Linked DNA regions of Homo sapiens. The protein of the gene in region 1 purifies or fractionates together with the protein of each later gene. This does not show direct contact. Each region holds a gene or a part of one and is shown in the gene's direction. Other genes may lie near its edges. The genes, in order: PTPN4 and MPP7.

Evidence for each region.
Region 2: the proteins of PTPN4 (region 1) and MPP7 purify together in Homo sapiens (affinity purification with mass spectrometry; 2 studies listed by BioGRID and IntAct, with this or other methods). This does not show direct contact.

The regions. Positions count from the first base shown.
Region 1 is NC_000002.12:119,758,099-119,774,735, forward strand, and holds the start of PTPN4 (tyrosine-protein phosphatase non-receptor type 4), read left to right. Parts: upstream 1-1,823; 5' UTR 1,824-2,286; intron 2,287-16,637. UniProt on the Homo sapiens protein: Phosphatase that plays a role in immunity, learning, synaptic plasticity or cell homeostasis. Regulates neuronal cell homeostasis by protecting neurons against apoptosis.
Region 2 is NC_000010.11:28,112,026-28,128,662, reverse strand, and holds part of MPP7 (MAGUK p55 subfamily member 7), read left to right. Parts: intron 1-3,571; coding exon 3,572-3,653; intron 3,654-4,546; coding exon 4,547-4,632; intron 4,633-7,994; coding exon 7,995-8,069; intron 8,070-8,272; coding exon 8,273-8,469; intron 8,470-8,947; coding exon 8,948-9,012; intron 9,013-9,601; coding exon of another isoform or gene 9,602-9,606; exon of another isoform or gene 9,607-9,804; intron 9,805-16,637. UniProt on the Homo sapiens protein: Acts as an important adapter that promotes epithelial cell polarity and tight junction formation via its interaction with DLG1. Involved in the assembly of protein complexes at sites of cell-cell contact.

The DNA.
Region 1 (16,637 bases):
ATGCAGAATTTCAGGGCCCACTCTAGACCTAATGGATTAGACCATGCCATTTAATAAGAACTCCAGGTGATCAGCATGTATATTAAAGTGTGAGATATACTAATTTATTATTTCCCAATTCAATTTTCAGTGGGCCCATGTGAGCCTGGGGCACAGTCTAAAGCTCTCTCTCTCTTTTTTTTAAGGACAATAATTGCTTCTTCTCTTTCCAGGGTTGCAGGCAGGTAGATTTAAGGTGAACTCAGATTTTTCAAGGAATAATGGTGAGTATTGGTAACTTCAAAGGGTCCATCCTGGTGACTTGCAGGGGAAGTTCCACTCAGGAACTTTTGTGTCTTGCTTAACACCAGACACAAGACTACATGTAAGCCATGTGGCTCACATGTGTAATCCCAGCTACTCCGAAGGTTAAGGTAAGATGATCTCTTGAGCCCAGGAGTTGGAGACCAGCCTGACAACATAGCGAGACCTTGCCTCTAAACAAAAATTACATATTGTATGATTCTATTTATATGAAACATTCAATTTCTGGTGGAAGTCTCATATGATCTTTGGTTGGAGGATGACTGGATGTTGACAGATGACAATGAGGTGAAGAGCATTTTAGCAGAGGGAATGGCATGATCAAAGACAAAATGGAGAGTCAGAGGCAGGAATGCATATTTAGGGAGGAATGAATGAGCACTGGCTACAACAGAGATCTGGGAAGAAAAGCAAGTGAAGGAAGTAAAGCTGGAAACATGGATTGACAAGTTGCCTTTTTCAAATGGAAAAACTAACAGGTGTGAGGGAGAAGAGAGTCAATAGAAATTTCTGTCTTTTCCAGATTTGTTCACATTCCCCTGATTTGTAGTCATTTTGTCGGCTTGGGAAAGTGGTTTTTGAAAGATCGTCTTTATAAAGGTAGGCTCTGATAGGATGCTCAAGCTAAGAGCAAGGAAGGACAAAGAAGGCGCCTGGCGACAGAAAAGGGCACTAACAAAAATTGGGCAAAAAGGAAGTGTGGCGGTCCCCAAATCCCTTCTTCCTCCATTTCAGCTGAGATCATTCGCCAGTAGGCAACTGTGGTATTACCAATAAGTTTGTATCACCAATAAAATATTATAATGCACCTGGCTAAAAACCCTGGCGTGATAACACCAAATTCATGTTATTAGAAGGAATTAAATTTTAAAAAGCACACCGTTCCAGGCACACAGAAGGAGCCCCCGAACGTTTGTTTTATAAACGCAGGTTGGTTGCTGAGGCTTTGTTTTGGAGCCTACGTTTAGGAGAGGAAATGATTCAAAACTGCCCCCCAAAACCTATATCCTCCAGGAGCACTGAGGTTGGGGCGACCTGCTGCCAACTGGTCTGGTTTTCCCTTTTAACACACGCTTCTTGCCCACTATCCGGTCCCTGCGGTCAGTGGGTGCAGCAGGGGTCGCAGTCCAAACAACCAATCGCGACGCGGCTGCGGGGCGGGGGCCACAGCGCTCCGCCTCCCCCCTCCAATCCGCCCTCCCAATCCTCCTAGGCCGCTCTCTCTCGCACCTGCGTGTCCCTCTGCGCTCCGACTGGTGCGACTTCTCCCTGCGCTAGCGAGGCAGGGTTTTGGCCTCGCCTCTCGCGAGATCGCCTCCTGTTGCTGCCGCCGCCGCTCCTGGCCACTGACTGGCGGCGCCTGCGCAGCCGCCATGTTCGGTTGCTATGCTGCGGCCTAGGAGAGGGGGTGTGCTTGAGGGAGGAGGAAGAGATAGAGGAGGAGGAGGGGGAGGAAGAGGAGGTGGAGAAGGAGGGGGGTGACTGAGCTCCTCTTGCACTCTCACACACAAACGCTGCCCAGGATTACCCGCCAGCTCACGCCGCGCAGTGCGCTTTTCCGCTCCTCGCGCCCCACCACCAACATTGTTCTCTCAGGACTCCTGGGTCCCAGGGGCCGGAATTGGGCCTGAGCGGGAGAGGAAAGAGACTTGGCTTTGGCCGCGGGGTCGGAGGATTGGGGCCAGGCCCCCTCCCCCACGCACTTTTGGGGGTGTGGATTATCTCATCCCTGCAGGGAGGTAGGAGAGGTCGCCGGCTGCCCGCCTCCCTGCCACCTCCCCAGCGGCGCCGGCCCGCGGCTGCCCAGCAGCATGAGGTGGTGCTGGCGGCTCCGGGTCGTGGCGCGACCGCTGCGGCGGCGGCTGCTCGGGGGGCGCTGAGGTAGCCCCCCGGAGCGGCACGGAGGACGCGCTTCTCCTCTGCGCGCCGGGGCCTCGAGGCTTTTTTTCTCCAGCCGAGAGGACGCGGCTGTGATATACGAAGGTAAGAGGTTCTCCGGTCCCCGCCGGCCTCTCGGCCCTGCACGTTGAACGGGAGGCTCTTACCTGCATGTGTGGCTCCTGGGAGGTGAGCCAGGTGGGGCAAGCCGGAGGTACGAGGATGATTTGAAAGGAAGGAAAAAAGGACAAAAACAAACAAACAAACAAACAAAAAAACGCTTTCTTTCCTTTCTTCCTGGGACCTCTGCTTTTGCGGGGGTTATAGTTGGAATCTCTGTTATGGGTCAGCGAAGGGCCAAGGGATGGAATAGGTGCGGAGATGGAATGTTCCCAGTACCTAAACTCTAGGTAAAGCTTTGGAATCTTGAGTTTTCCATTGCTGGTAGAATTCCTTTTTTTTTTTTTTTTTTTTTTGGCTCATATGAGCGCTTCTTGCACGCTGCATGAGCCAACTATTCCTACCATTGAAGTTTTAAGCCTGTTATGATTCTACCAGTATATACCTGTATTTGGGAATCTGTAGTTGAGCCAAAAAAAAAAAAAAAAAAAAAGTTGAGATGTGGGTAAACAGTGATGCATTTCGCAGGGTTTCCATAAAATGGAACAGCTTACAGTTGCACAGGTGATGTGTGGATGTTTCTGCAAAACTTAGGGTGGAAGATTTTATGTCTGGGCTTGCATCATGTAGTGACATCAGTATGTACAAGGACGATTTGTAGGATTTTTCAAAACGCCTGTTCTAGGATAACTTGTTATGCATCTGCAATATGCCAGCTGCTTTTCGAATAAGAGGTTTCAGTAATACTAAGTTTCTGTGTCCAGATCTTGGGCCCAGTTGAAACAGTACAGCTGATTGGTCACATTTAAAACATATTTATGGAGAAAGATAAAAGGCCAATGTGTCCGACTTGCAAAAGACAATTAGAGTAGAAAGAAGACTGGAACAGTAAAAGCCAGGGCATTTTTAAATCTTGGTTTTCTGAACTTTAACGTGCCAGAGGAAAAAAATTTTTTTTCAATTTTAAGGGGGAAGGAGATGGCCTTAAAATAAAGGATTGTTCAGAGCCTAAACTGTGCTTAATGGAATAGAGCTAGGTATATCATCTAAATCTTGAATTTGACTAATATAAATTCAGCTTTCTTTTAAAGAAAAAACTCGTAAGCAGAAGTTTGTGTATTCTACAGAACCTCTTCACTAGCTCGTAAGTGTGATCATTTTGTGGACATCACTGTTTTTTTGTTAGAATAAATTTATGCTCCAATTACCACAAAAGCAATTTTTATGTCTCTTCGCATTTTTTATGGTACACATATCTTTGTTACATTTTGCATTGAAACACGCACGGTCCCATAGTATCATAATCTTCAGTGATTTATAAGAGAAACAGTCTATTTTGTACATGGGAATGTTTGTCATGTTGCCAGTCTGTTTTAAAAATTTGGCAAGAGGTTTTTAAAATCCAAGGAGGCACCACTATTTTGTAGTTTTTAAAAATATTAATTGAGTAGGTCCATGTTTATTAAGTTAGAAAATCACGAGTTCCTCAAAAGTAGTAATAGACGAGGATGTGATTTTTCTTACTGCCCATTTTCTAACATCTTAGCTTCAGAGCTGTAGGTATTGAATTGAGTCAAACTTGTGTTTTTTTCTTATGTTCTAATTAAATATCTTTTAAAATGTCCCTAGTAACATTGTTACTTTAAATTTATAACACCCAATTTCTAATTTAGGCTAGGCATAAAACCAGCATTGATTGAACGTACTTGCTAAAAATACTTTCTGGGTCGGATGTACTTAGAATGCAGCCTCAGGAAATTTCATTTGAACTATTCTGTGACCAGTGTACACTTCATTATTGTTGAAGGACTTTTAAAAAAAGTATAGATCTCTCATACTCGATTTAATCAGTTTGAGCATAGATGCCTAACTTTAAAAAAAAAGTATAATAAAGTGGGATAGTAATACAATTTACGTGAGATGGTAATAAAAACTTTTCAGCTTTTTTTTTTAACTTGTATGACTTCGTTAGGTTGTTATTAAACTGTGATTTGTATTTTTAAAATAGTTTTGTCTGTTAAACATAATTGAGGTGTACAGTACAGTATCCATTGTTATCTGTTTAGTATTTATTTATGACTTACAAACTCTAAAAGCGGGATCAGTGATCATGGTTTTTAGTAAGTTGTCTTTAAGGAGCAAAGTAAGAGACTAGCAGAAAATTGCAAGGAGGTTTGTTATTGAGAGTACTTCTGCCCCCCGCTTGAGAGTTAATATGGCCACTTTTAAACAAGAAAAGTTTTCCAGAAACGTGGAAATCTTGTTTGGTGTATGTTTAGGGGCAAATGTTTTAAAGTTTTGCCTAAATTCTTAGTTAGAATGCAAAATTGATCAACTCCCTAGGAATGGTTATTGTGGCTAAATATGAATTGTTGCTCCTATGTAAAATTTAGTTATTGGTAGAAGTTTACTAACTGAGTTGAATTTTGTTGTTTTCCTGGGTTATTGCATGTTATGAAGTTTTTTATGTACTATAATCCAGATTTGTTAAATTTGCCAGTTTACTAGAATAAGCTGTGAAGCCTTGAAGTTTGGCTTAGCATTCTGAAAATCCTTTTTATTGTTTGCCAGGAAAGCACTGTAGGAAGGAGGTGTTATCTCTTCATTTAATATTTAATGAGTAGTATAGATGATGAGATAGGATATAATGTAGAAATACCGTAGAATCTTCTTTATTGATATGAAAGTACCATTGTCTAGGAACAGCATAATTTCTTATCTTTTGCATGAATGGGGAAAAAGAGGAGGGGAAATTTATTAGACTCTTTCATTTCATTAGAGATATCTTCCCTCACATTCATTCTTCATTTCATTATTCTTAAGTAGAAACTTTGGAAGAGAGATGCAAGTATTTGAATTAATTAGTAAGAACAAAATGAAAATTACATCGTATAGACTATCATGAGGAAAATATCAATTTGGGTTGGTTATTGTGTTTGTATTTTTTAACAAGGAGGTTATATAGAGTAGTAGAAAGAAAAAAGGACCCAGAGGGGAAGAGTGTTAATATTTATTGTCTGTTAAGTGTCAGATCCTGTATAAGGGGCTTTTCATGTTGTCCCACTCACCAAGTATGCTTTATGAGGTAGGTATTATTAATCCCCTGTCCTCTCCCTGCCAAATAGAAGCTAAGGGAAATGAAATAACTTGTCTAGGCTCATACTTCTAGTAAGTGGAATTCTCTAAAACTTATTCTTTAGATCGGTTCTGTCCAATTAAACTTTCTGCAATGATGGAAATATTCTTTTTTCCTTCAACTTTATTGAAGTATAATTGACAAATATCATAGAAATATTTTTTGCACTGTTAGTTATGGTAGCCATTAATCATGTGTGGCTATGGAGCACTTAAAATGTGACGAGTGTGTCTGAGAAACTCAATTTAAAATTGTATTTAATTTAAATCAATTTAAATTTATAGCCAGATGTGGCTAGTAGCTATAGTATTGGAGAGCATAGCTTTAGGTCTGACTGCTTAGAAAATCTGAGTTGTAGTATTTAATCTTCCACTGGTTTATGCATGGCATTGGGCAAGTTGTTTAGTTCTGGGCTTCAGTCTAATCTGGTGTGAAAATGAAGGGGTCGCCACTAAGAGATTATCTCCAAGGTTCCTTCTTGCCTGAAGTTCTGTGACTGTTATTAAAACATACAGTAGCATTCAATATTCACAAGCATTATGTCTGAAAGGATCCCCTCCCCAATATGCTCACCCATTACCTAAAGATTTCTGTTTAGTCAGTTTCTCTTTTTGAGAAGCGTATGTATAAAGCACACATAAAGGATAGTGGATTATTCCCCACCTCCCCAACTGTTCGGCAAAAACATTGTGTAACTCAAGGCAGTACTTTATGATGGAACAAAGTTTGAATCTTTAAAGGCCATATTTTAACATGCCACCTTCCCGTTTAAAAATATATAGGAGTTCCCCGGTGCTTATCAAATTAATCCCAAATTTACCTGCTTGACCTTGAAGACTTTCTACCAACTTCATCTCATTAACCTTGTTTCTCATTCGTGCTTAAAAAGAAAATAGTCTTGTTTTTTCCTTTGTCCTCGTTTCCATAATTTAAACATCTCTGTCTCCAATTCATGTGCCTCCTCTTTAAACCTTTTTCAAAATTCACCTGTTTCTGGAAGAATGCTGCTTAATCCACTCACAAGGATCAGTTAATGAATCCTGGTAATAAGTACCCTAAGGTTAATATATGCTTGTTTAGATATAGTTTAATATCTTCTTAAGCTTTTTTTTTTTCTTAAGTTTTTATGTTACCTACTCTGTTTCCTTAATTTTCTTAGGTTAAAAAAATTAAAATAGGAATAGCGTCTTTTGTATTGTCTTATGAATTTAGTTCATTTTTCAACAATGCTACTTTTAAAAGTTGCTAATTTTTAAAAAGGATAAATACTGTAACAACGTTTACCCTTGATCACCACCATAATAGCTATTTTTTGTTTCTTTCCAGGTAATTGTTCATATTTAAAAAATAAAGTTGTGTGGTAGAGAGAATTTTGAGAGGAATATAATGGGAACATTGTATGGTGGAGGCTGTGCAATGTAGGGGAAAGATCACAGACTTTGGAGTCAAATCTGGTGTGGAATCTAGCGTCAAAAACCTCGGGCAAACTGTCTGATTTCTGAGTCAGGAGTCAAATCTGGTGTGGAATCTAGCGTCAAAAGCCTTGGGCAAAGTGTCTCATTTCTGAGTCAGGTGGTCTTGAATTGTGGGGATTAAGATACTATATGTAAGGCATCTAGCGCTGTGCTTTAAATACAAGAGATGATCAGTCAGTGATAGTTGGTATTATTTTTTCATTTTTCTATTCCCATCTTCATGAATATTATTTATTTATTTTAGCTACCCAAAGCCACCAAGGTCAATGAATATAATTTAAGTGATTAGTTAAACATTCAGGTGATATACCATAACTGATTTAGACATTTACATTTTGTTAAGCGGTTTTTTGTTTATTTCCTCAGTTTAAAACCCTAGGACTGGGATAATGGTCAAGTGTCATGAATATTTCTGTGCCAGATCTCTCTCTTACAGAAGTACCTACAGTGGTTGTTCTTGTTTTGGGAAGAAAAAAATGCTAATTTTATAATTGTATTTCATTGTTTTAATTAATGTAATTTGAAAATTTATTTGGTGATGATGTAATGAACATTCCTTTATATGTTAAGCAAACATTTGAAATGCCCATTGTAGTGGGAGCAGTGGTATAAAGGTAAATAAGACATGATTCTTGTCCTTGAGCTCAAATTCTAGGGTGGTAACACATGTCAACAAACAATTAACAATTCATAGTGACAGTGTAATAAGATCTGGGGAAAAGAAGTGGCATTTGAATATGGTCTTGGAGGATCATTTGGAATTGATCTGGGTAGAGAGAACAGCATATAGAAAAAGTCAAAGTATGAAAGAATGTGTGGTGTGTTTGGAGAAATGTAAGTTGTCTTGTTGGATATGTCTGTCTCTGTCTGGGTGGGTGTGGTTGTCTGTTCCTGTGTGTGAATCTGTGTGTGTGTGTGTGTGTGCGCGCGCGCATGTGCGTTGATTGCAGTGGGAAATGAAGTCTTGTGAGGGTCCTTGTGTTTGGGCAATGAGTGGGATCATTTTAAGACCTTTAAAATAGAGCTTCCCAACTGGTGTGCCATGAATGGTTTACCAGTGTTTCGGAGAGCAAGATACCCTTGTTTAATGGGACCTGGGCATATCAGATCCCCCTCCCCACCCTGCCCCAGGATGGTTTCTTTTGGCTTTGAATAGCATTTGTGGCTTATCCCAACGTGCTAAGAAATTATTATTTTCTTTGTTGCCAAGTTGGGAAAAGGATTGGGAAAACCACTGTTTTAGAGACTGTAAGTATTAGAAAGTTTATGGTTCCTACTCACCCTTGGCATCCACTATGGAATCAGAAATAAATATCAAATCCTAAAGTAAGCTTAAGGTAAACTTAAGAATTCTTAAGTCACCTTCCTCTTTCTCTCTCTTTTTCCCTCCCTTTACCCGCTGCCTCCCCCATTTCACTGGTGTATGCGCATGTGCGCGCGTGTGTGTGTGTGTGTGTGTGTGTGTGTGTGTGTCTGTGTGTGTGTGTGTGTGTGTGTGTGAAATATCTCTTTGGTGCCCTTGCGTTACTGGTGCCCTAAACATGCATTTAGTCTGCCTCTTGGGAAATCAGCATTAACATTCAGGAACAATTTAGAGGTATTTAAATAAGGGATGATAAGATTAGATGCAGGTTTTGAAAGGTAACTCCTGACTTCTAGATAATGATGCAAAGTTACAAGGATAATGCAAGGATGAGGTTAGAAATGGAGCAGAGAGACCAGATGCTGTTGCAGTGGTCCAGGGGAGGGATGATAGGAACCAGAAATAGGGCAATATAGATATGAGATTAGAACTGAAAACTGAGTAGTTTCACTAGACCTGAGAGTCCATTTGGACATGGGGGGAAAGAGTTGAAGATGATGCTAGGATTTCTTCTTTGGCAGCTTCCCTTCTTTAGCAAGGGAAGGCCAGATTATTTTTATTGAGCACTTCCAGTGAGCCAGGTATTTTGCTAGACAGCGAAGTTGTCACGAGTTCTCATTTAACATTTTGAAATAATTTCAAACCTAATGAGAAATCTCAAGAAAAGTACAACAAAGAGCTCCTGAATCGCCTTAAACTAATTTTTAACATTGTACTAGCTATGTACCGTGTGTATACACAGCTCAAGATGAGCCTGGAACACCTCGTGCTTGGCTCAGTAAGGCCTTTTCCAGATGCCCCAAGTGGTCACCTTGGAATTGTGTTTAGCCCTTTCCCTTTTTCTACTGTATCTAATTGGATCCTCAAATTTCAGTGAAACAACCTCATCATCTCTCATTTCTGGTCCTACATTTTAATCCTTATTTCTCCATTTCAGGGGAATGCACCATTTCTAATTTCATTTGGCTTTTTTCCTGAATTATTTGAGAGCAAGTTGCAGACATGATCCCTATCACTACTAAATATTTTAGTGTGTATTTAGCAAAACAGGACAATCTCCTACATAACCGCCAAATCAGGAAATCAACGTTGATATAACACTACCTTCAGGTCGAACCTAGATGCCATTCAAATTTTTCCAACTATCCCAGTAGTATCTCTCTTTTCTTTTTGGTCCAGCATCCAATTCAGGTTCACACATTGCATTTAATTGTCACATCTTTTAGTTTCCATCAGTTTGGAATGATTCCTCAATATTTCCCTGTCCTTTATGACCTTGACAGTTTTAATGAGCAGAGTCCTTTTTTTCTGTTACATGTTTTCCTCAACTTAAGTTCATCCAGTGGTTCCTCATGTGCAGACCGAGTGCATTGTTGGCAGGAATGCCATAGAAATAATGTCGTGATATTCTTAGTACATCACTAAGAGACGTGCTGTATAGTCCTGCTACTAGCGATGTTTAACTTTGAACACCTGTTAAATTCAAGTCTGCTGGGTTTCTCTACTGTGAAGTTATCGTTTTTTTCCTTTTGTAATTGGGAATTCTTATGTGAGAAGATATCTGGGAGTGTGTCAATAGAGCTGAAGGCTGTAACCACGAGCCTTCAGGTCTGATGATTGCTACCTGAATCAGCCACAACTGTGAAAGTTGTCACCTACATTTATTAGTTCATATTCTACTGAAAGAAGATTTTCTCCTTCTTCTCCATACATTTATTTATTCATTCATTTATATCAATATATACTCCTGGATTTGTTTCTGTTTAGTGGTTTATATTAGTTACTGTCATTTTAAAATTTCATTTTGTTGGTCAAATTGTCCCAAATTTGGCCTTTAAGTTGGCTCCTCTATCTCCTTGACCTGTCCCCCTCCTTGGTGTATTTCCTTACTTTCTGGCCTAACAAGATGTTCCAGATGATCTTAATACTCTCCTATCCCAGCTCTGAAATCATTTATTTTTCCAAGGAATCCTGATTTTATTTTACTTTTTTAAGTAGAGATGCTATTTAGGAACTGAGATCCGAGTGTTCAGTGTGTTCATTTCTGCTGGCATGTCATCACTTTTAGGGGGATAGAGCTAGGAAATACATATATGTATACACACATCTGAATCTGTTTCTATGCCTATGTACAGGTATTTTATAAGTTCACACTGATACAACCAATTCCAATCTAACATCTCAGGATTCGTCTAGCCTTTTCCCTTTCTGTATTTGTAAATCTCTTCTCCAGCAGTGATAAATTGGTTCCTATTATCTCCTCAGTGTATTTACTTATTTGCTCAATCCCCTTGTATGTGCCAGTCTTCCGACCCCGCATTAGTTGTCTCCTTTCTCCTTGCTTGCCGCCTCTGAGGCCTGTGGCATGGGGTCCTCAGAGCTTGCTGTCAGGTCCATGTAGGAAAGAGAACTTCTCATTTAATCTTTTTCCCCTCATTTAATCAGGACAGAAATTTGTTAGAAAGGTGCTATTCCCAGTTTTAAAAGGAGAACAGAGCTGAAATTCAAAAAGGTCTGTGTCTTTAGGCATGTTACTGTGTAAATAGCTGAGTAAATATTTTGCATTCAGATTCGTCTGATACTGAAGCATCTTTTCTCTCCTGTACTGCATAGCCTCTGAGTATCTGTGGAATCCAAAGTGGCAGGATTTAAGGTTGTATAGATGGTAGCTGAAGCAATGGGTGGGACTGTCACTGCTTATGAAGTATATATAAAGTTAGGAAGAGGCACACTGACAGAGCTCCTAACTACCATCACTGAAAGATTAAGGGCTCTCCGAAATCAAGAAGCCAGTGAAGAAGACTGAAAGAAAGGTTGTGAGAGAGGAGTGTGGTTGTGTGTTAGATGATGGTGAAGTAAGGAATTTCATGAAGCTGCCATGTTGCTGAGAGAAAAAGAGAAGACCAAGAGGCTTTGAATTTGACTGTTGGAAAGTTATTGATAATCTCAGCTAGTTGGTTTTCCAGTGTGTTCAGGCGAGCTGCCTGTATCAGAATTATGGAGATACTAATGAAAAATATGAACTCCCCAGGTCTCATCTCAGACCTTATAGATTCTTAAAAGGGGGAGTGGGGAGCCAGGAAGTGGTAGCCTGGGAAAATCTGCTGAAATGCTAAGGTTCTTCTGAGGTGTACTAGTTTGAGGTTTGTTGCTTTAGCAGAAGAGTTATAGTGGAAGAGTGTAATAAACTAAATTGAGGAAACCAAGTGTACAATGAATATAGATGAGACAGCTCTTCGAGAAGTTTGCCATAGAGGTAAAAGATCTCAGGTCATGGAAGAATAGGGGACAGCATCAAGAAAAATACCTTTGCGTTTCAAGGGTTACATACACCTTAACATTTGTTGGGATTAAGAGAAGGAAACTGTAATGGTTATTTTAAAGTTGGGTAAGCAAAACTAATTAGCAACACCTACTATCAAAAAAATGCCCTGAGTGAACTTTGATATGTATCTGGGATAGCTGCCTGCTCCCATTTTAAATGCCATCTTTTGGTAGGTCTTTGGAGTAATCCAAGGGTCATTGTTTATTTTGTTTTTAGTTAAATTTGTATCTTGTGTTTTTGTTATACAGTTGTGTAAAGAGCTTCTCTTTGCTCATTTTTATACAAACACGAATTCTAAGTATATTCTTGTATATAGACGAGTCACTAGCAATACAATTAAAAATTACGTCCAAAATTGGAGGTGACTTTAGAGGGAAATCCAATCCAGGGCTAATTTAATGTATTCTTTGAGCACCAGCTAGGTACTAGGCACTGTGCTTGGCTGTGGGGATACAGAATTGAATAAGACATGCTCTTTATCATCAAGATTATTGTTCTTTCTTCAGAGGAACTTGAAATCTAGTGTATAGCTAGAAATGGTACAGATAAGTCATAGATAACTATGTTAGTCTACAGTAAAATAAGTACAGATAAGTCAATGTTTAATTAATACAGCAGTGTATATTACCATAATTCTCAGACTTGTCATTTTAAAATTGTATTTAAATTGTATTTTCGTATTTGAATTGGCAATATGGCTACATGGTTCAAGTTTCAAAATAATATAAAAAGGCATATAATGAGAAGTCTTGATACCACTCCTTCTCTTTCCTGTTCTGTATAGGTAACTACTTTTATTTTTTGTATATTCTATGGTATTTATGCAAATAGAAACACATATAAAGATTACTGTTTTCCCCCTACCTTTTTTATGTAGAAGGTATTTACTATATTAATGCTTTGTACCATAATTTTTAAATTTAAAATATACCTTGGAGATCATTTGACTTCAGCATATAAAAAGCTGTCCCTTTCTTCTTCTTTTTAAAAAATATAGTAGTATGTTCTATTGTATAGATATACTATTAAGCTAACTAATTCTAATTATTTAAACTTTAAGTTTTAGACCCTTTTACTTGTGTAACCCATTTCCTTTCACCTCTTTCTGTATGAACTAGTGCTCCCTGAAGCATTTTACATTAATGACCTGCCTGACTTTTCTGTATCTAAAGGGTCTAACTTTTTTTTTTTTTTTTTTTGAGACGGAGTCTCGCTCTGTCGCTCAGGCTGGAGTGCAGTGGCGCAGTCTCTGCTCACTGCAACCGCTGGCTCCTGGGTTCAAGCGATTCTCCTGCCTCAGCCTCCCGAGTGGCTGGGACTACAGGCTTTTAAAAATCTTGTCAGCTTCTGCTTTTACTCAGTAGAAATCAGTTACCATGTAACAAGTCTGATTACCTTGAGACTCCCATGCTGTGAGGAAGCCCAAACTCTCACAGGAGAGACCAGAAGGCCATGTGGATGAGTACTTCAGTGAGGACACATGAAAGTGATGCCTTCTTGGACTTTCCATCCCAGCCCAGCCATCAACTGAATGTAGATGAGTGAATGATCCCAAATGATGCCAGATGACATCCAGTGCAGCAGAAGAGCTGCCTAATCTAGCTTTTACCCAATTCCTGGCCAGGGAATTGTGAGACATATAAATCCTTATTGTCTGAAAATAAATAAATAAATAAAAGTAGGTTTATTTGAGTGCAGATCTGTATCTGTTCTGCTCTGTCCTGGTTTTCTGTGTTAACAATGTCCTATTTTTAAATTCCTGTACTCCAATCTTGTAGCTGGAGCTCTCTGCTATCTACTGTAAGCATTGCCTGCTGCCATGTTTCCTTACTGTGTTTTTCCGTGATTGCTGGGATACCACCTGCTTATCTGACCTCTACAATGCTAAAGACCTGCTTGCCTGGATCACTGCTTATTGTCTGGTACTGTAAGCTCTGGATACTATTTTCTAACTGCCTGTCTCTATTGCCTCTCATCATCATTAGCGAGTTTCCCTCTTCTCCCCTAATTTTCCCTATCACAGCCCTATCAGCCCTTGAGTTTTAGTTTGTCAATGTGAAACTTGGCAAAACTTCTGAAATTATTTGGGATGATTTAAAATCTTCTTGATGTTAGTTGTTATAAGTCCATTATGCCTTGTCTGGACTCTTGTAGTAGTCTTTTTAAGTGCAGTTTGCTATAGTTTTGCCCTTTATAATCTCCTTTACACTGTAGCCAGAGTGATCTGACATTCATATCTGATCAGAATTCTTTTGTTATCTCTCCATCTCTCTATAAAATAAAATGAAGGAGTTTTCCAAGGGGATTAAAGTTATTTGGGAAATATCAGTTTTTAAGATAATATTATTTTTGTGTGTTTCTTTTTTAGATACTTGTTCATGAAAGCAAAATATCATTACAAATGCCAAGGACTTCCAAATTGTTTCATTTGCATTGAAATAAGGGAAATCTTTCTAATTTATCTTACTGTTTCCAGCCTAGCACAAATTGCAGTCAGTTATAGTGGCTTACTACAAGAAGCTGCTAGGGAAAATGGAATGTCTTCTTTGGGAAGGGATCGTGATTTGAAAAAGTTCTCTTAGGTGATTCTGATACTGTGACTCATTTTGTATCTGGCTATTTTTATGGCTTTTGATCTGTGTTATCATAATTGTTTATGAAAAGAATTTCGTAACCAACAGTTTGTTATATGCAATTCTGAAATTCCCACATCCCTAAAAAGCCCAAAAGTTTTGTTAACTAATTTGGCAACCAAACTTGACTTATACTGAGGTGAGACTACTTAGTCTCATTTATTCCACTTACAGTGTACATTCTTCAGATTCTCTAAAGAAATTTTATTTTATTTTTATTTTTTGAGGCGGACTTTTGCTCTGTTGCCCAGGCTGGAGTGCAGTGCCATGATTTTGGCTCACTGCAACCTTTGCCTTCTGGGTTCCAGTGATTCTCCTGCCTCAGCCTTCCAAGTAGCTGGGATTACAGGCTCACGCCACCACACCCAGCTAATTTTTTATATTTTTGGTAGAGACGGGGTTTCACTGTGTTGGCCAGGCTGGTCTTGAACTCCTGACCTCAAGTGATCCACCTGCCTCGGCCTCCCAAAGAGCTGGGATTACAGGCGTGAGCCACCGTGCCTGGCCCTTAAAGAAATTTTAAATAGCAATATGGTTGAATACAGGGTGCTGCCCTAGAATCAAGAATGTTACTTAATGTAAGGTATCTGTGCCGTATCACCTGTCTGTGTCCCAGATACTCTGAAATTCAAAACACTTCTGAAAGTGTTTTGAAGCTAGAGATCTTAGATATGAGATTGTAGAACTGAACCACCAACTTCCTAGCAATGGAAAGAAGTGGTACTTTGTTTTCTTTTGTATTTCTTTTTGGTGGTAATGTAGTTGAACATTTTTTCATGTTTATTAATTTCATTTCTTATATTCTTCAAATTTTTTGTTCATTTATCTGCTAGGGTGAATAGTTTTTCTTACTAATTTATAATATCGTAGATACTAATTGGTTTTCTGTTCATTCTAAGTTTTTGTATCTAGCATATTGGTGGAAAATGCTACAAGTTGAAAACGCACATACAGCTGATGTTTGAACAACATGGATTTGAACTGTGTGGGTCCACTTATACGTGGATTTTTTTTCAATAAATATATCGGAAAAATTTTTGGAGGTTTGGGACGATTTGAAAAAAACACAGATGAACTATATAGCCTAAAAATATCAAGACTTTTTTTCAATTAAGAAAAAAACTGGCTGGGCGCGGTGGCTCATGCCTGTAATCCCAGCTCTTTGGGAGGTCAAGGCAGGTGGATCACGAGGTCAGGAGTTCAAGACCAGCCTGACCTACATGGTGAAACCCTGCATCTACTAAAAATACAAAAATTTGCTGGGCGTGGTGGCGCACGCCTGTAATCCTAACTACTCAGGAGACTGAGGCAGGAGAATCACTTGAACCCAGGAGGCAGAGGTTGCAGTGAGCCGAGATCGCACCACTGCACTCCAGCCTGGGTGACAGAGCAAGACTCTGTCTCAAAAAAAAAAAAAAAAACTAAAAAGGAAAAATTAGATGTCATGAATACATAAAATATATATAGATACTAGTCTACTTTATCATTTACTACCATAAAATATACACAAATCTATTATAAAATGTTAAAATTTAACGAAACTCACACAGACCATACATGGTATCATTTGCAGTTGAGAGAAATGTGAAAAAACATAATGATGCAGTATTAAATCAACTGCACAAAATTAACCATCTTACATAATGTATTACTGTAATAATGTAATAACCACCTCTATTTCTAGTGAGTTCAGGTGTTGGAAGTATCCATTTAAAATGCCATGTGATGCTAATCATCTCCACATGAGTAGTTTGTCTCTCCAGTTAATTGCCTGTCACAATAAAAAGTGATCTTTTGTGGTTCTTGAGTATTTTTTAGCTATGTTTCATCATGTTTAGTGCAAATCATAAACCTTGAATAACACCATGGAACCCATATGAAATGCAGCTAGTGATGCTGGAAGTGCTCCCAAGGAGAGAAATGTCACAACATTACAAGAAAAAGTTGAATGGCTTGATATGTACCATAGATTGAGGTCTGCAGCTTTGGTTGCTTGCCATTTCAAGAGAAATGAATCCAGGATAAAGACCATTTTTTTGTTTTGTTTTTGTTTTGTTTTTAAAAGAAATCTGTGAAGCTGTTGCTACAGCTACACCAGCAGGTGCAAAAATCTTGCACTTTTTGTGAAATACCTTTTTATCTCACATTGAAAATGCAGCTTTTATATTAGTGCAGGATTGCTATTAGAAAGGCACACGTATAGACTCTAATATGATTTGAGTAAAAGCAAAGTCATTATATGATGACTTAAAGCAAAAGAAAGGTGAAGGATCTAAAGCTGGAGAATTTAACCCAATCCAAGGATGGTTTGATAGTTTTAGAGTTTGGCTTAAAAAATGTCAGGATAACAGCAGCTTCTGCCAACCAAGAGGCAACAGATGAGTTCCTAGGCACCCTTAAGAAA
Region 2 (16,637 bases), on another chromosome or scaffold:
TTGATGGCAATTCCATCCTTCCAGCTGCTCAGCCAAAAGAAGTTGAGCCTATCTTTAATCCCTCTCTTTCTTTTGCATTCCATAGGCAATCTGTTGGGAAATCCTTTAGACTCCACCAATAATATAGCCAGATCCCCTTTCATCACCTCTACTCCTGCCAGTCAGATCCATGCCACCATCATCTTTCCCTTGAATTACTGTGCAGAGTGAGCATCCCAAATCTGAAGATCTGAAATCCAAAATGTGCCAAAATCTGAAACATTTTGAGTGCAGACATGAGCTCCAAGGAAATGGTCATTGGAGACTCTTAGATTTCATATTCTTGGATTTGGGATGCTCAACCAATAAGAATGCAAATGTGCCCAAATCTGAAAAGAAAATCTGGAATCTGAAACACTTCTGGTCTAAGCATTTCAGACAAGGGATTAACCTCTCATTAATTTCATTGCTTTAGCCCTTGCCATCCTTCACTCTTAGCACAGTGGGTGGAGTGGTCCTCCTAGGTTGTGCCCCTCCTGCTGTTCACAACCTTGCATGTTCCCTCTTTCATTCAGAGTAAAGCCCAGTGTCCTCACAGTGACTCATAAAGCACATAAGCTGACTCCCTTCTGCCTTTACCTCATCTCCTCTTGCCGCTCCTCTGCTACTGGGCTCCAGCCACACAGGCTGCCTTGCTCGCTCTTGAGCATTTTATTCACAGCCTTCCCCTTGGCACCTTTGCACTGGCTGTGTCTTCTGTTCCTTCCCATTGGCTAACTTCTTCACCTCCGTCCAGTCTTTATTCACTCAGACATCATCTTCTCAGTGAGTCCTGTGTCTTCACATTGTCTTTCCTCCGCCTGCCCTGGCATCCTGGTCTTCTATTTCCTGCCCTACATCCCCTCACACCCCCACAGTGTTTACCACCTGATAGGGTTCGGCTCTGTGTCCTCACCCAAACCTCATCTTGTAGCTCCCATAATAACCACGTGTCGTGGGAGGGACCTGGTGGGAGATAATTGAATCACGGGTCAGGTCTTTCCCATGCTGTTCTTGTGATAGTGAATAAGTCTCACGAGATCTGATGGTTTTAAAAACGGGAGTTTCCCTGCACAAGCTCTCTGTTTGCCTGCTGCCATCCATGTAAAATGTGATTTGCTCCTCCTTGCCTTCCACCATGATTGCGAGGCCTCCCCAGCCACATGGAACTATAAGTCCATTAAACCTTCCTTTCATAAATTGCCCAGTCTCAGGCATGTCTTTATTAGCAGTATGAAAACAGACTAACTCTCTAACATACTGTATAATGTATGTAATTATTCCATCTCTTGTTTATTGTCTTGTCTCCCCCATTGGGATGAGAAAGCAGACATTTTTTTCTTTTTCATCAGTTTATTATAAGCCCTTAGAACGGTGCCTTGCACAGAGTAAGTTCTCAATAAACATTGGTCAACTTCATTGAATACAGAATAAGTCAAAGGAACTAGCATTAAGTATAACAAACAGGTTAGATAGCCCTATACTGAAAAACTGTACAGTCCATAGTACAGAGAGAGATTGGTTCCACTTAACTAATTCTATGTTGCAAACCACGGCTGTATGTTGTGGCGAAAACAATATTATTTTGGGGGTTGATGAGCTCAGCTGGGAGGTTCTCACTTGGAGTTCCTCATACATACAGTCAGATGGTGGTGGCTGGAGTGAACTGAGGGCTCCTTCATTTACACAACTGTTACCTGGGCTTGGAGCTGGAAGGTTGGGGGCTGGCCAAGTGTCTCTTTCTCTAATTGTTACCTTTACTTGGCTAGCTTGGGATTCCTCAGAGCATAGCAGTGGTCATGATTTCTTACATGGCAGTGAGATTCGCATAGAGCAAGTGTTTCAAGAGGCCCAAGTGGCAGCTACAGATCTTCTTATAGCCTTTGAAGCCTCAAAACCATTTTTACCACTTAATGTGGGAATATGGCATGCACATACAAGGAGGGAAGGAATTGGTGATCCCCCTTTTAGAGACAATCTCCCCCAAGAGTAATGAACTCATAGACAGAATGAACTTATGAACGAAAGGTTATGGGAAGATAGAGGTTAAGCAGTATTGGATGATGATTGAGATGAATGATTGTGTCTCTGGTCAGATTACCTTAAACAAGTCCTGATTTTTCCATATACTAGTTATCTGATCTTAGACAAATTACGACCATTTAATATTCAGTTTATCATCCAGAAACTATGGATAAGTAAACTTAGATTACTAGGCTTTTCTGCCGTTGGGCATATTTGGTGGGAAAATTTGAGACATGTCATTAAGGAAAATGAAAGTTGATTTAATCAAACTAATTAGTTATATTGAGAATATTACATTTCCAGTCATTTTGGAAACAAGTTAGAAATTGAAATAAAAGCAGAAAATACTAGTAGTTGGTGAGTCTAAGCTTTATGACCATGAAGTGATGCTCATTCAAGTCTCTGGCCTTGAATACATGCACAGGTGATGAAAAATGCCGTAAAATGCCTGTCACTTAATTCTTTGACTTTTTTACTATTATTGGCTATGTATCTGATAGTTATAGATAAAGGATACTTATTACAGATGGACTTTTACTTTGTTTACATATCTGTTCTTTAATGATATAAATGTGTTTATTGACAAACTGGAGAAAAATTTCACTTCTTTTGGATGAATTCTGCTGCCACTGAAAAGCATACCTTTTTAGCAGTATTATGCAATGTTGGATGGCTTTGCAAAACCAATGCCAGATTCTTAAAAGGAAAGTCATGGAAAGGCTTTCAAAGTAACCACTTGTGCCTGTTGTTCTTACAAGGCAGCAGTTAATTTGCTTCTGAGTATCTGTAAGTGAAGAATTTTTGGCTTCTTTTTGAGACTGTTTCCTAATCTTATGCCAATACTTAGTTCTATTTGTACTAGTTACAATCCTAGTTCACTAAAACCATGGAGTAAGAGCTCTTTCTTCTAATCATTTGTCTTAGACTTAGGCAACAAATATAACTAATTTCTGGGTTTTAACTTTTTTCTTTTTCTTTATAATTATCGCCCAAGTTTTTTTTAATTTTTAAATTTTTATTTTTTTACTATGATAACTGAGGGTGATAGAAGGATCACTGAACTAACTAAAAGTCAAATGATCTGGGTTTTAGTTTTTTAACATATAGAATCTTTTGTCTATTAGTGTAATTGTCACTATTCCACTTTCTTGATGCGGTACTATAAGGATGAAATGAATGAAGAATTGCTTTAAAAGGATAAAAACCAAACAGCATTGAAATACAAGGTATTTTTATAATGGAAAGAAGGTATGTTTATTTTACACAGTTTTGAAGAGGTTGAAGATTTCAAAAATCCTTAAATTGGGCTGAAACCCTTTGATGCTATGTAGATAGAATTTCCTCTATTTAGTCATGAGAATAGACATTCTAAGACAAATGGCATGATGTCTATTTTTCCTGCCTCATTTCTTTTTTTTCGTTTTTGTAGTTGTTTTCTCTTTTTTCAGATGAATGTCCTTATTTCCTCCTTTTCTAACACCTAGTACACACATTTACCCACAAATGCTTTTTGTTTTTGTCTTAAAAGGGAGCTACCATTAAGAAGGATGAACAGACCGGGGCGATCATTGTGGCCAGAATCATGAGAGGAGGAGCTGCAGATAGAAGTGGTGAGACTTTAAATGTTAACCAAGTACAGACTAATCACGTGTTTCGTGTGTAGCATTTCCAGTAGATAACTAAGAGGATAACCATCTTTGGATCTAATACAGCAGAACAAGTAATAAGATATTTTTCTCTGTGTTGAAATGTGAGAGCCTATTTAAATAAATGATAGATAAACATTACTCTATGGTCTTCTTGTACACAAGCATCCAAAGCTATCTTAAAACTTGTGGGCCGGGCGTGGTGGCTCACGCCTGTAATCCCAGCACTTTTGGAGGCCAAGGCGGGTGGATCACGAGGTCAGGAGATCAATACCATCCTGGCTAACACGGTGAAACCCTGTCTCTACTAAAAATACAAAAAAAAAAAAAATTAGTCAAGTGTGGTGGCGGGCACCTGTAGTATCAGCTACTTGCAAGGCTGAGGCAGGAGAATGGTGTGAACCTGGGAGGCGGAGGTTGCGGTGAGCCGAGATTGTGCCACTGCACTCCAGCCTGGGTGACAGAGCGAGACTCCGTCTCAAAAAAAAAAAAAAAAAAAAAAAAAAATCTTGTTTCTTCTGTATTTCTCAATTGAAAAGTACTGCTAAGAGCATGCAGCCTTTAAGATAAATAAAAATTATTTTATTAGTATATTAGTATAAGATATCAGTAATGTGCATTTCTAGACAAAGACCAAGCTCCTGTTACCATTTCTTGGCCAGCATTACTATGTTGTGGTTTTTGAGTCACTGCTATGGAGAGGCATAGAGGCTGAAACCTGAGATGTGTGAAGGTCTCCTTTCCATTCGTTAAGTGTATTAAGGGAACCTAACAATGCTTTACTTATGGAAACAGCTGCAAATTACAGTTTTGGTTGTGGGTAACACTGCTAATTTACCAAATCTCCTATTTCTCAGGTCTTATTCATGTTGGTGATGAACTTAGGGAAGTCAACGGGATACCAGTGGAGGATAAAAGGCCTGAGGAAATAATACAGATTTTGGTAAGCTGTAAATTTCTTTTAAAGGTACAATAAAAATAAAATCGAATCACTGTATTTCAGACTTTTAGACTTGGTTTGACATAGACAGGATTTGTATTAAGCAGTGCAGGGTTCGAACACTTAATCCCTGTGTGTTCTTGGAAAATATCTTAATCTATTCATGCCTCAGTGTTTTCATTTGCAAAATGAGAATAAGAGGTAACTATCCATCTGGAGTGTTTTGAGGATTAAATGAGATAGTATATATAAAGAGTTTTAGGGCCGAGTGTGGTGGCTTATATCTGTAATCCCAGCACTTTGGGAGGCTGAGACAGGTGGATCACCTGAGGTCAGGAGCTTAAGACCAGCCTGGCCAACATGGTGAAACCCGTCTCTACTAAAAATACAAAACAAAATTAGCTGCACGTGGTGGCAGTCACCTGTAGTCCTAGCTACTTGGGAGGCTGAGGCAGGAGAATCGCTTGAACCCAGGAGATGGAGGTTGCAGTGAGTCGAGATCACACCACTGCACTCCAGCCTGGGCGTCATAGCAAGACTTTGTCTCAAAAAAAAAAAAAAAAAAAAAAAAGAATTTAGTACCTGTCCCTGTCCCAAGTCTATACTTAGCAGATGGCATCTACACTGTGGCTGGTGATGCATTTATCTTTGTCTTCCTCCCATTGACACAGTCACATTCCATGCTATAGATCATAGCAATACAAATTAGTCAAACTAATTTAGATGTCTTTTGAAATCTGACACTTGAATAAAATTATTTTATGCCTTGGAAATATTAATTCTAAAGTTCATTTGTAAGATAAAAGGAAGGGAAACTCTCTTTTATATGTGAAAACATACTGGAAACCTATACCAACTAGAAGAGGTTTGAGTGTGTCTCAAAAACAGATCTCTGTATATATGAAAATTTAGTATATGGTTAAGGTGGCATTTTAAATCAGTGGGAAAACAGTGGAACATTTCATAGATGGTATCAGGTTAATGGCGCAGAAAAAATAAGGTCAATCCTTGTTTTACACAATACATAAAAATAAATTCCCAACAAATTAAATAAGTGCAAAAAAAACAAAAATTGCACAATAAAAGGTAATATACAATTTCTATAATTATAAGGTAGAAAAAGACTTTTTAACCTTGATATGAAAGTCAAATAGAAAAATAACAGATGTGTCTACTAGAATTCAAAACTTTCTTTATAGAAAAAAGGTGCCATAAAGAAACATCAAAGACAAATGAGATTGTATGAAAAATATTTTCAGTATATATAATAAAAGGCTAATGTTTCAAAATATATAGAGATGATAAAAATCAATAAGAAAAACATTTACAGAAAAATCAGCAGTGCATATGGACAAATACTTTACAAAAGAAAACATAGATGTCTGGAGACACGAAGGTGATGCCAAGCCCAGGGCAGGCTTGATCCCCTCAAAGCATTTTCAGGATATGAGATTGGAAAGCTTGATAATGCCTAGAGTTGGTCAGGGTATAGGAAAATAGGTATATTTATATGATTTGGGGATGGGATAAATTATTAGTAGAACTTTTTGAGATCTGAAACTATCAAAATTTTAAATGTGCATACCCTTTAGTTGGAAATTAATCCTCAAGCAATAATTTGGTAAATGTGTATAAACAAAATTTTTCAAAAATATTCGGAAACTACCAAGAAAGTTGCGTTGATCAAATAATCATTCATCCATATGCTAGATTATTGTGAGGCAATCACGAGAGATAGACCTATATGGCTCAGCAGTAATAGTAATAACAATTGAGTCCTTATTAAATGACACTGTTGTAAGGACCATAGATCCATTTAAAAAAAAACACACAGACACAAACTAGAAAAATAAGAGGAGATTATAGAAAAGACTTTTGTTTTCTCTCTACCAATGTAATTCAGTATTACAGTATGAGAATTCTTTATAAGATTTGTGAGCGCCTTCTACAATAAGCAATAGCAATGATATTACCATTTTGAAATAAATCAACCCTTTATAAAATTCTATTATTTAAACTATCAGAATCCCATTTTACTTAACTTGCTGTGTTGCACTAGAGCTGCCTTCTTAAGGCTCGGCCCAGAGCTGACTGTGTGATGCACCATTTCCCAACTCAGCTTTCAGCAACTTCATGCTGGTGAATTGAAATTGACTATAGTGAAAGTATTTATACCATGGAAATTGACAGACAGTACACATCAGAGCCTTTTTTTTTTTTTAAATAAATGGAGTCCTGGTTTACCAGTGCACCACAGATAGTGAGACTCAGAGATATGTCTTGCCCTACCCCCCTTCCTTTCATATCTTTCAAATGTGCCAAGTATTTAGTGCTTTTATGGAGCTTACAAATTAGCAGGAGTAACATATCTTATGAAATAATGGCATAAATAATTAAATATGGCTACAATACATGGTAAAAAGAGAGAGACAGAGAATGACATGAGACTATATTTAAAGAGAAATCCTATCTGAGATAACAAAAACTTGTGGGTGCTGGTACTTATTTTAATGAAGTTAGAATAGATACTCAGTCTTTTCATCTTTCAATTAATCTATTACGTTGGATATTTTACTCGCTCACCAGAATACAATAGATATGAATGTTCTTTATTTTTTTTTTCTGATGGGCATTGCCACTAATTGAATCATGTATTTGTAACTGCACTACTGACATTATAGGTGTTTTGTCCCCCAAAACATGGATGCTGATACTTAAATGTAACTGTATGAACCTTGTACATTATTCTTTAAAAAAAAAAAAAAAAGCTTCTTGCTCTGTCACCTAGGCTGGAGTGCAGTGGTGCGATCACAGCTCACCGCAGCCTTGAACTCCTGGGCTCAAGAGGCCTTAGCTTCATCACCACGCTTGGCTAATTTTTAAAATTTTTTTTGTAGAGACAGGGGTTTTGCTATATTGCTGGTCTTGAACTCCTGGGCTTGGGTGATCCTGCCACCTTGCCTCCCAAAACACTGGAATTACAGACACGAGCCACTGCACCCAGACCTTTATACATTATCTGTTCTAGTCATTGAATACTGTGTTTATTTAAGGTGTTGTGCATATTTTGTGTGTTTCTATTTCGAAGAAACTTGGATGGGAATGTATTTACTTGACAGCTTAAAAGTACACAGGAAGTAAAAGTGGATTTAGGAGTTAATGTTTTTTAACTTATTCTACAAACTTCAGAGCTTTCTTTCTCACATTACAGGAATTTCTACAAAAATAGTTTCCTCCGTTTAGTCTATCTAAGAGTAGAAGCCCCAAGCTTGTAAATTTTCAGATGCATTTCACTTTCTACCTATTTTACCTTATTCTTCCTTGGGTCTGGTTTTCTTATAACTCCTTGTTTTATCTGTTACCAGGCTCAGTCTCAGGGAGCAATTACATTTAAGATTATACCCGGCAGCAAAGAGGAGACACCATCAAAAGAAGGCAAGGTAATTATTGCTTAAAAACATTTCTTCGTGCGTGGGAGGGAAGTCATGTTTTTCCATCCAACACATATCCACTTTGTCACAACACATTTCTTTCAATATTCCAGTTTTAAAATTACTATGTTTGGAGTCGGAGTTAGGAGAATATAGGCCATTTCACATTTATTTTTTATCTTTATTCATCTTTAATGAAACTTTTCTTCCAGATGTTTATCAAAGCCCTCTTTGACTATAATCCTAATGAGGATAAGGCAATTCCATGTAAGGAAGCTGGGCTTTCTTTCAAAAAGGGAGATATTCTTCAGATTATGAGCCAAGATGATGCAACTTGGTGGCAAGCGAAACACGAAGCTGATGCCAACCCCAGGGCAGGCTTGATCCCCTCAAAGCATTTCCAGGAAAGGTGAGCTGCTGGTACATAATAATGGCTTTTCTCCAGCTGACCTTTTGTTCTCTGCAAAATATCATTCTGGCATTGATGTGATAAAATATGCTATAAAACCTTGCCTTAGAATTTTTTATCCTGTGGGTTTGGATTTCTGTTTTGTCTAACTAAGTATGATGAATGACCAAAAATAATATGACAGTACTGGGTCATATTAGATTTTTGTTATGAAGCAAATGGAAAATAGCACATTAATATCTTGAAACCATGTTGATATGAAAGGTGGAAAAAAAAAAGACCAGTGGTTTTGGAGGGAGGGAAGATAATTTACAAAAATTTGAAAGTGGGCGATTTGTTTCTTAATTTGAATCTATTGCATTACATTCATTTTTTTCTCTAACCTTTAAGTTTTTTCTTAAGACTAAATATTTTGATATTGTATTCACCTCGGACCTGTGCTGAAAATTGATAGGTATGTTGACCTTCTTTCTCCCAGGAGATTGGCTTTGAGACGACCAGAAATATTGGTTCAGCCCCTGAAAGTTTCCAACAGGAAATCATGTAAGTTTGTTAATAAGAATGCAGAGAAACCAAACCCTGATGTTTATTTTTGACTATTAAAGCAGGTGCTCATGGCAGAACAAAGGGTCCTATTACCCTAGCAATAACTTTGGGATCATCAGTTCTCAGGAACAAACAAATATGAGATTCATATTTGGAATATTAACATGAATCTTTTGAGGAAAGGGGTGGTTGAGGTTGTTAATAATAAATCCATGACTCACTCTTTAAGAAAGTGACTACTACTACTACTGTCTTTGATTTCCAAATATAGTTATTTTATTAAATGTCACCTAAAATACAGCTCTTCCTTCTTCAAAGCCAGGAAGTTTGGGTTAGGTATTTCTTGGTAAAGATTAGGGAGAAAAAAAATCTACCATTTTCTTGGGTACAAAAGCAATTGTGCTCAAGACCAATTGTTCTTAATTCCTTTCTTATCCCCAGATCATAATACTTCTGACCTTTAGCCTATCCCTTTGGAGTTATTACCAGACTAGATTAAAAGAAAATGAGAGAAAGACAAAGGATGGCTACCGTATGACTACTGAAAAACTTAGTGTGCATTTAAATACTTTTTTTTCTCTTTCAGCCTAATCTTCTGTCAGCTTTTCTTTATTTCCCACCACCCAGCTCTTCAAGTCTGCATCCCATAAATTCCCTGTTCCACCTCGCCTAGATGTTTCATGGTTCTAGGTATTTTAAGAGGAAAAAACCAACCCTTTGTTTTTAGCATAGAAACTGTACATTAAACAGCGAAATGACCAAATAAATGGCCCTGGAATTTTACACCAACATCTGTTTTTAGTATTGTTGCATTTTTCACATCTCCTGTGATTTCTGTCAGTTTGCAGAAGCATATAGCCCAGGAATCACATTAGAAGGGAGCCAAACTGTAGTCGAGTATAAATCTCACAAGCAGGCAAATGCTTAAAGTGGAGCACTCATTCAAAAGCCTGCTTGTCCTTGCTACATTAAGTCTAGGCACAAGGAAAAAAACCCTTGTCACAGAATGCTACAAGTCTTCTGACATCAGAAAACTTAAAGCTTTCGTGAGAATATTGCACTGTTCTTAAGCGTGATGACTTTTCACTGGCCAACTCACTAACAGAAAGGAGCTTTGAGGCTCCTTGCCTGACTGGCTCTCAAAGGGATTTTTAAATAGGAGGCTTACACATTTCTAATATATTTGGCATATGTGGGATAAGATAATGTGTCACTTAAAGATGAAATAAATGTAATTATACTCGAATCTGGATCCATACTCAACTCTTTTTCAGTCCTAGGCAACTTAGAAATGTACAGTTTGATATTATTATAAATTTTCATTGATTGAAAATTTTTGATAAGTGTATATGTATTTCTTTAAAAGAACTATACAAAAGGGATATTTTGCTTTTTAATAGCTCTTTCAAACTGGTTTCTATATAGATGCATAGGAAGGTGAGGTGTGTGTGGGGGTATGTGTGTTTGTTTGTGTGTGTATGTAGAAGTATTAATTGTAACGGAGTCCTTTTGTATGTTGATTTGCATGATTTCTTTTTTATGTTAATACTTCAATATTTGGATCTGATAAATATTTATTCTAGCATTTATCTTTACTGAAATGTCCTCATTTGACTAATTTTGTTTTTTTTTGTTTTTGTTTTTGCTTTTTCTGCCTCTTGAATACCATTCAGAAATGTTTGCTGGTCCTCCTCTCTTTCTTTCTCCTCTCTCTCTGTCTCTCTTATTAAACTAGAGTTTGATTCACTGAGAGATGCATTGTTTGTTTTTATATATGTTATTTATTTTCAAATAAATCTGGTCAAAATTATCCTTATTAAATCATAAACATATAACAGATATGGACTTGTTCAGAGAGACAATATATTTCTGTGACAAATAGGCAGCTAATGTCTTTATTCTCAAAGAATTGAAATTCTACTTGAAATTTCCTTGAATATTGTCTCACATAAAGTTAAAAGTTATGCATAAATCATTGTATTGATTCTGAACATTTTAAATGGCATTTAAAAACACTTTAACCTATGTTTTGATGATGATTCTTTACCAAACTAAAACTTGTAAAGGCCATCTGATCCACTACTTTCTGGATTTCAATATTTGGTACTTAGGGTTTTGGAATAGGAAACTTACGTTATCATGCCCTTTGTTGAATTATAGGAAAATGCCATGAAGAAAAACAGCAAGTTGGTATAAAATCTTTTGTTTTTATGATTTTGAATATTAATAGAATAGGGTTGTAAAAAAAGTTTCTGATTCAATTAAAATTTATAAAGGAAGAATAATTCTATCATGTCAATGTTTATAAATTTATTTTAAAAATACAGTGATAAAAACTTTATCCACTAATTTTTACAAGTGTACTTAACATCTAGGAGGAAATTGCAAATATAGGATTTGAAATAATGAATTTAGTCACATAATACCATTTACGAAATTAGCCAGTTAACTTTTTATACAAAGTGATTGCTCGTATTACTCTTTTCTAAATCTTTATTTTGCTTTTTATTTCATTTGTAGTGTATCACCATAACTTGAGTTTGCATGGGGGAAAAGTTCATGGAAGATGGTTCTGGAACTATAGGGTTTCAGTTAATATCAACATAGAAATAAATAAGGAAGGGCACATCCCAATCTTACTGTCTTTGCATTTTTGCACTTATATTTGTGCTAGAGCTCTAGTTCTTGGCTCCAAGGTAAGTAAAATCAGGAGCCATGATAATAACAACCTCTTTAGGCTTTGAAACTAGCCTCCTTATGCAAAATTCATAAGTGCAAGTCATATTCATCTTTGTTGCTTGGTTATGTCCTCCCCTAAAGAATCTTTGTGTATCTAATACAAACCCAGAAGAATAAAAAGGCTTTTCAAACAAAAAAATAATTTACCTCTTAAAAAATTCCTGAAAACTAAAACATGACCTCTTAAACCTAAAATATTTCTAAGTCTTAAGTAGCTGGATATAAGGACTTGTCTCCTCCCCCTATTTTTTGGAAGAATTGCTTACCGAACAAAGATATTTGTAATGGAAATTTGTTTCCCTCCCTCTCCATCATCTAATGATAGGTTCCCACATAATGGATTTATATTAGTAATGCAGAGAGAAAAGCAGGCCTCAAAGTCTGATAGATTTTCTTTTATATGACCAGCTTTTAGATTATTATATACAAGATGTAGCTTAAGTGTTCTGGAAATGAGTAAAAGTGAATCTTATGTCTCAGATAGAATGTAGGAGTACTTTTGCATGACAGGAACTTGGCAGCTTGCATTTCTTGTGTCAATATAATTTAAAGTATTCTAATTTTCTGCCTAAAACTTATTTTTATAGTTTGGTTGCATGTACTACCTAACCGTTAAGAAAGAAATAGGAATTCATTTGTGGTATTGTTTGTTGCTTTTCTATTGAAATCTAAATACAAGTTAAGAATTGTCTTCCTAATGACATCAAATTAATTTAAGTTCAGTAGGATGTGATTTATATTAAATATTTAAATCCAGTATATATTGTCTTCAGAAAGGAGTAAGAAAAAGCTGTTATTCAGGTAGTGTATTTTACAACAGAATATTCAAGTGTGAGTTTTTATAGTGTTGTTTCCTTTTTTTAGTTATCAAAATATAAGAACCTAAAAGTTTCTAATATTGCTGACTGAATAACCTTAATTCAAAATTTTTGTTTTACACAATAACTCTTAAAAAATTCTTGCAGTCAAAGAAACAAGAATGTACAATTTTTCAACCATTTAAAGATTAGAAAGGAAAACACAAAATATTTTATTGTAGAATTTGTTTTAACTAGTCATGATTATTATTATGCAGGTAAAAAGAAAACATTTAACTGAAGCCAAAGGGTATCCATTTAAGCAAGGTGTAACTTAGTTCATTCAAAGGCAAACATTTGTCAGTTGATAATCACAATAGGCAAAAAAGAATTTAAGCATTGAGTAAAATAACGAATTCACTGCACACGGTACCGGTATTTTGGAATGTCTTAACACTTAGGAATAATATATCACAGGATGCTACAAGTCATTGTAATAAAGCTTTTCAAGTTGAGTAAGCTTCTTCTTCCTGGATTCTTAAGTAATTTTATTTGTTGTTTTCATACATAAAGTTAATTCAGAAACAAACACATTGCTTATGTTGTTACATGAAGTTTGTATGTCTAAAACATTGTCAAACATTTTCTTAATATTGGTGGGGTCTTGTATAAACAGAAACACGTGGGGTTTTAAAAAATACCTAACATTGGCCGGGCACAGCGGCTCACGCCTGTAATCACAGCACTTTGGGAGGCCGAGGCAGGCAGATCACAAGGTCAGGAGTTCGAAACCAGCCTAACCAACATAGTGAAACCCCGTCTCTACTAAAAATACAAAAAAATTAGCCAGGCGTGGTGGCACATGCCTGTAATCCCAGCTACTCGGGAGGCTGAGGCAGGAGAATCGCTTGAACCTGGGAGGCAGAGGTTGCAGTGAGCCGAGATTGTGCCATTGCACTCCAGCCTGGGCAATAAGAGTAAAACTCCATCTCAAAAAAAAACAAAAACAAAAAACAAAACAAACAAACAAACAAACAAAAAACCTAACGTATTTTTCCCCTAATACTAATACTATCTGGAAGATGCCAGAGTTCAGAGTTTGGGTGGAAAGAGGTGTAGATGAACTAAGTTGTAAATTTCATATCTGATCACTTAAATCGAAGATGGTTGAGGTGAAGAACCTTCTAACTGTTACTGCTCACACTCAGTCTCAGTGAACTGTGTTCTCCTGGGATTCCCCAAGATGTTGCTTCTCAAACACTATCAGAGTAGATGCTTCTAGTCTTTCCATTGGAAGCGTTCTCAGCCCTATTGTCTCTTGTATTTTGTCCTGGGGACTCAATGCCATGCAGGTTGGAAAGCATTGGTTAACTCTTAGGGGTCTGATCTGTGGTTGCGGATTATTGCAGACTTTTAGGACGGATTGCGGTAGGGGGTGGGGAATTTAGGAAAGTGGTTTCTAGTATGGGGATTTAACCTTGCCCATGTGAATAATAGCACACTAATATAGACACAGTTTCTCCACTTGTCAGGAGTGTCACACATGTCCCTTGCAGAGTGACATCCAGCAGAATGGGACGTTTACTACTGCCCAGTGTGCAGGACTCACCACGTGCTTTTCACAGAACCTTTCTAGTTCATTCTCTTAAGACAGCACATTTATCTTTCTCTTTAAAAAAAAAAAAGGTTTTCCTTTTTTTGAGACAGGCTCTCACTCTGTTGCCCAGGCTTGAGTGCAGTGGCACCATCATAGCTGACTGCAGCTTTGAACTCCTGGGCTCAAGTGATCCTCTTGTCTCAGCCTCCTGAGTAGCTGGGACTACAGGCATGCGCCACCACCCCCAGCTAATTTTTAAAATTTTCTGTAGAGATGGGTTCTCACTATGTGGTTCACGCTGATCTCAAACTGCTGGCTTCAAGTGATCCTCCTTCTGTGGCCTCCCAAAGTGCTGGGATTATAGGCATGAGCCACTGTGCTCAGCCACATTCATCTTTTTGAGATCTTCTTGGCCTCCCCTTTGTCACTTTTCTAACTTTCCTCTCCTGCTCTAATGTACTTGAAGATAGCAGATGGTGGACTCTTGATAACACTGGAGAGAGGAGCTGGCCCTCCCTGGCCACTCCTGGCAGGAGACTCTCCCTTGGAATACCGAAGCTTTGGGGAGGGATGGCGGGCCATGGGAGGTCATGCTAAGTCAGTAGGAAACTTGTAAGAAACTTTATGTCCCTCGACCTCTCTCCTGCCCATTTCTAGTCTGAGACTTGAGTAATCAAAACATGATTTTGTCATGATTAGCATAGCATTGAATTAAAAACTCAGACTCGAGCCAGATGGCATGGGTCCAAATCCCAGTTTTAACATGGACAAGTGTGTTGTATTTTTTTTTCTTTCTAATTAGTTCTTGAGCTCTCTCTAGAAAGTGGCTATAAACTCTAGCCCTGCTCTGATGCAGGGGAGGTGGTCGTGGCTGTCTGCAGTGTGCCTTTCTTGGGATACTTCTTTCTGGTGGAAGGCCTAATGCCTAAGTGTCCACCTGTGACCAGATGTCCTCTCTCATAAGGACTTGATTATATTGACAGACACTCTTGGGGCTCTTGTCTGACCTGTTTCCGGTTTATTCCTACCAAGATAGCCACTCTCTAGGAATGCCCTGACCAGGAAATACTGTAGATTCAGGTGTGCTGGGCAGGTGAGACACAGAGGAGGCAACGTGAAATAGCAGGGGTGCATGAAATAGCAGAGGTAGTGTATTACTCACAGATCCCAGAGAGGAGAGCAGTATACCTCGCAGGGCCAACAGGAAGAGGGGAGTTGTCTGGGATGCAGACTCAACCAGTGTGTGGGGAGCAAGAGAGATGGGGGGACCAAAGCCTTCACTGGGGTCCAGGACATTACCCAAGCAAGCTTTCCTTCTGGGAGTTCTAAATAGTGGGTGTAAAGAAAGCAGGCATGAGTTCCGTGGAGTTATGCTGTGACTGAGAGGTGGTCACTGCAGCATAATTGCATGGTCCACGTGGGGTGTAGAGGTCACGGAGTGAGTCAAATAGGCTGTATCCGTATGTCCCATAGTGAGGTGGTCACCAGCAGGCAGTTGTATAAGGCAGATATCTGGATGGGCTGCCTTGAGGAAGTGGGAGGAGGCAGAGAGCTTGAAGCCATGTCAAGGGCGACTAAGCCCTGTTTCTGATATGAGAAAGTTAAGCCTGCATTCACAATGGATGCCAAAGCAACATAAAATTATGAGAATTCACTATAGGGTTCTTTCTTATCTGAAAAAAATGGGGATTATAGTACTGGACTCATAGATTGTTGGGGAATTAAATAAGTTTGTGTATTGTAGTGTACACAGAACAGTGCCTTCCACATAGTAATAATCATGTGACTATCCCAACTCTCTTCTGAGATCAACGTTTTATATATTTTTTCCTCTTTGTTCAAACTTGCTAAGTCTGAGAAATTCTGTTTCCTTTTCTTACTGGATGTTCATTAAGCATGATACTTGCTACTGAATATATGTGTGTGGTTATATCAGTGATATAAAAATATCATTTTCTCTCTACTTAAAAATTTTATGGAGAAACATTCTTTTGCAAATTTATACAGCATATTCATGAAATTTTATTAAAATGTGAAATATGTACTATATGTGATATAAATTACAGATTTTTTTGTGGATTGGCATTGGTGTTTTAATTTTTTGTTGGTTTTTGTGGTATGGCTTTTATCATTTGATTTCCATGGCGCTAAGTCTTTAATCGAGGGTGTAGTATTTAATCTATCCCATTGGTCCTATAAAAAAATAGACTCTATGTTTAACAACCCACTTTATAATGGAGTACCTGAGATTTCAAAGTGACCCATCTGATGTCCATCATGCCTAGCTGTTTGCCTAAGCCACATCATATCGTTTATTTCTTGTTTTCTAACCGTTTGCTTTAGATGCGCATGACAGGTCAGAGTTACTAAGACATGTGCTTAAATAAAGTCACAACTTGGGTGATTCAAAGCACGAGCCTGAATAATAATAATGATTTGCTTGTGATATTTGCTAATACTGGTCAAACCAAGCCAACATAGTTTAAGGA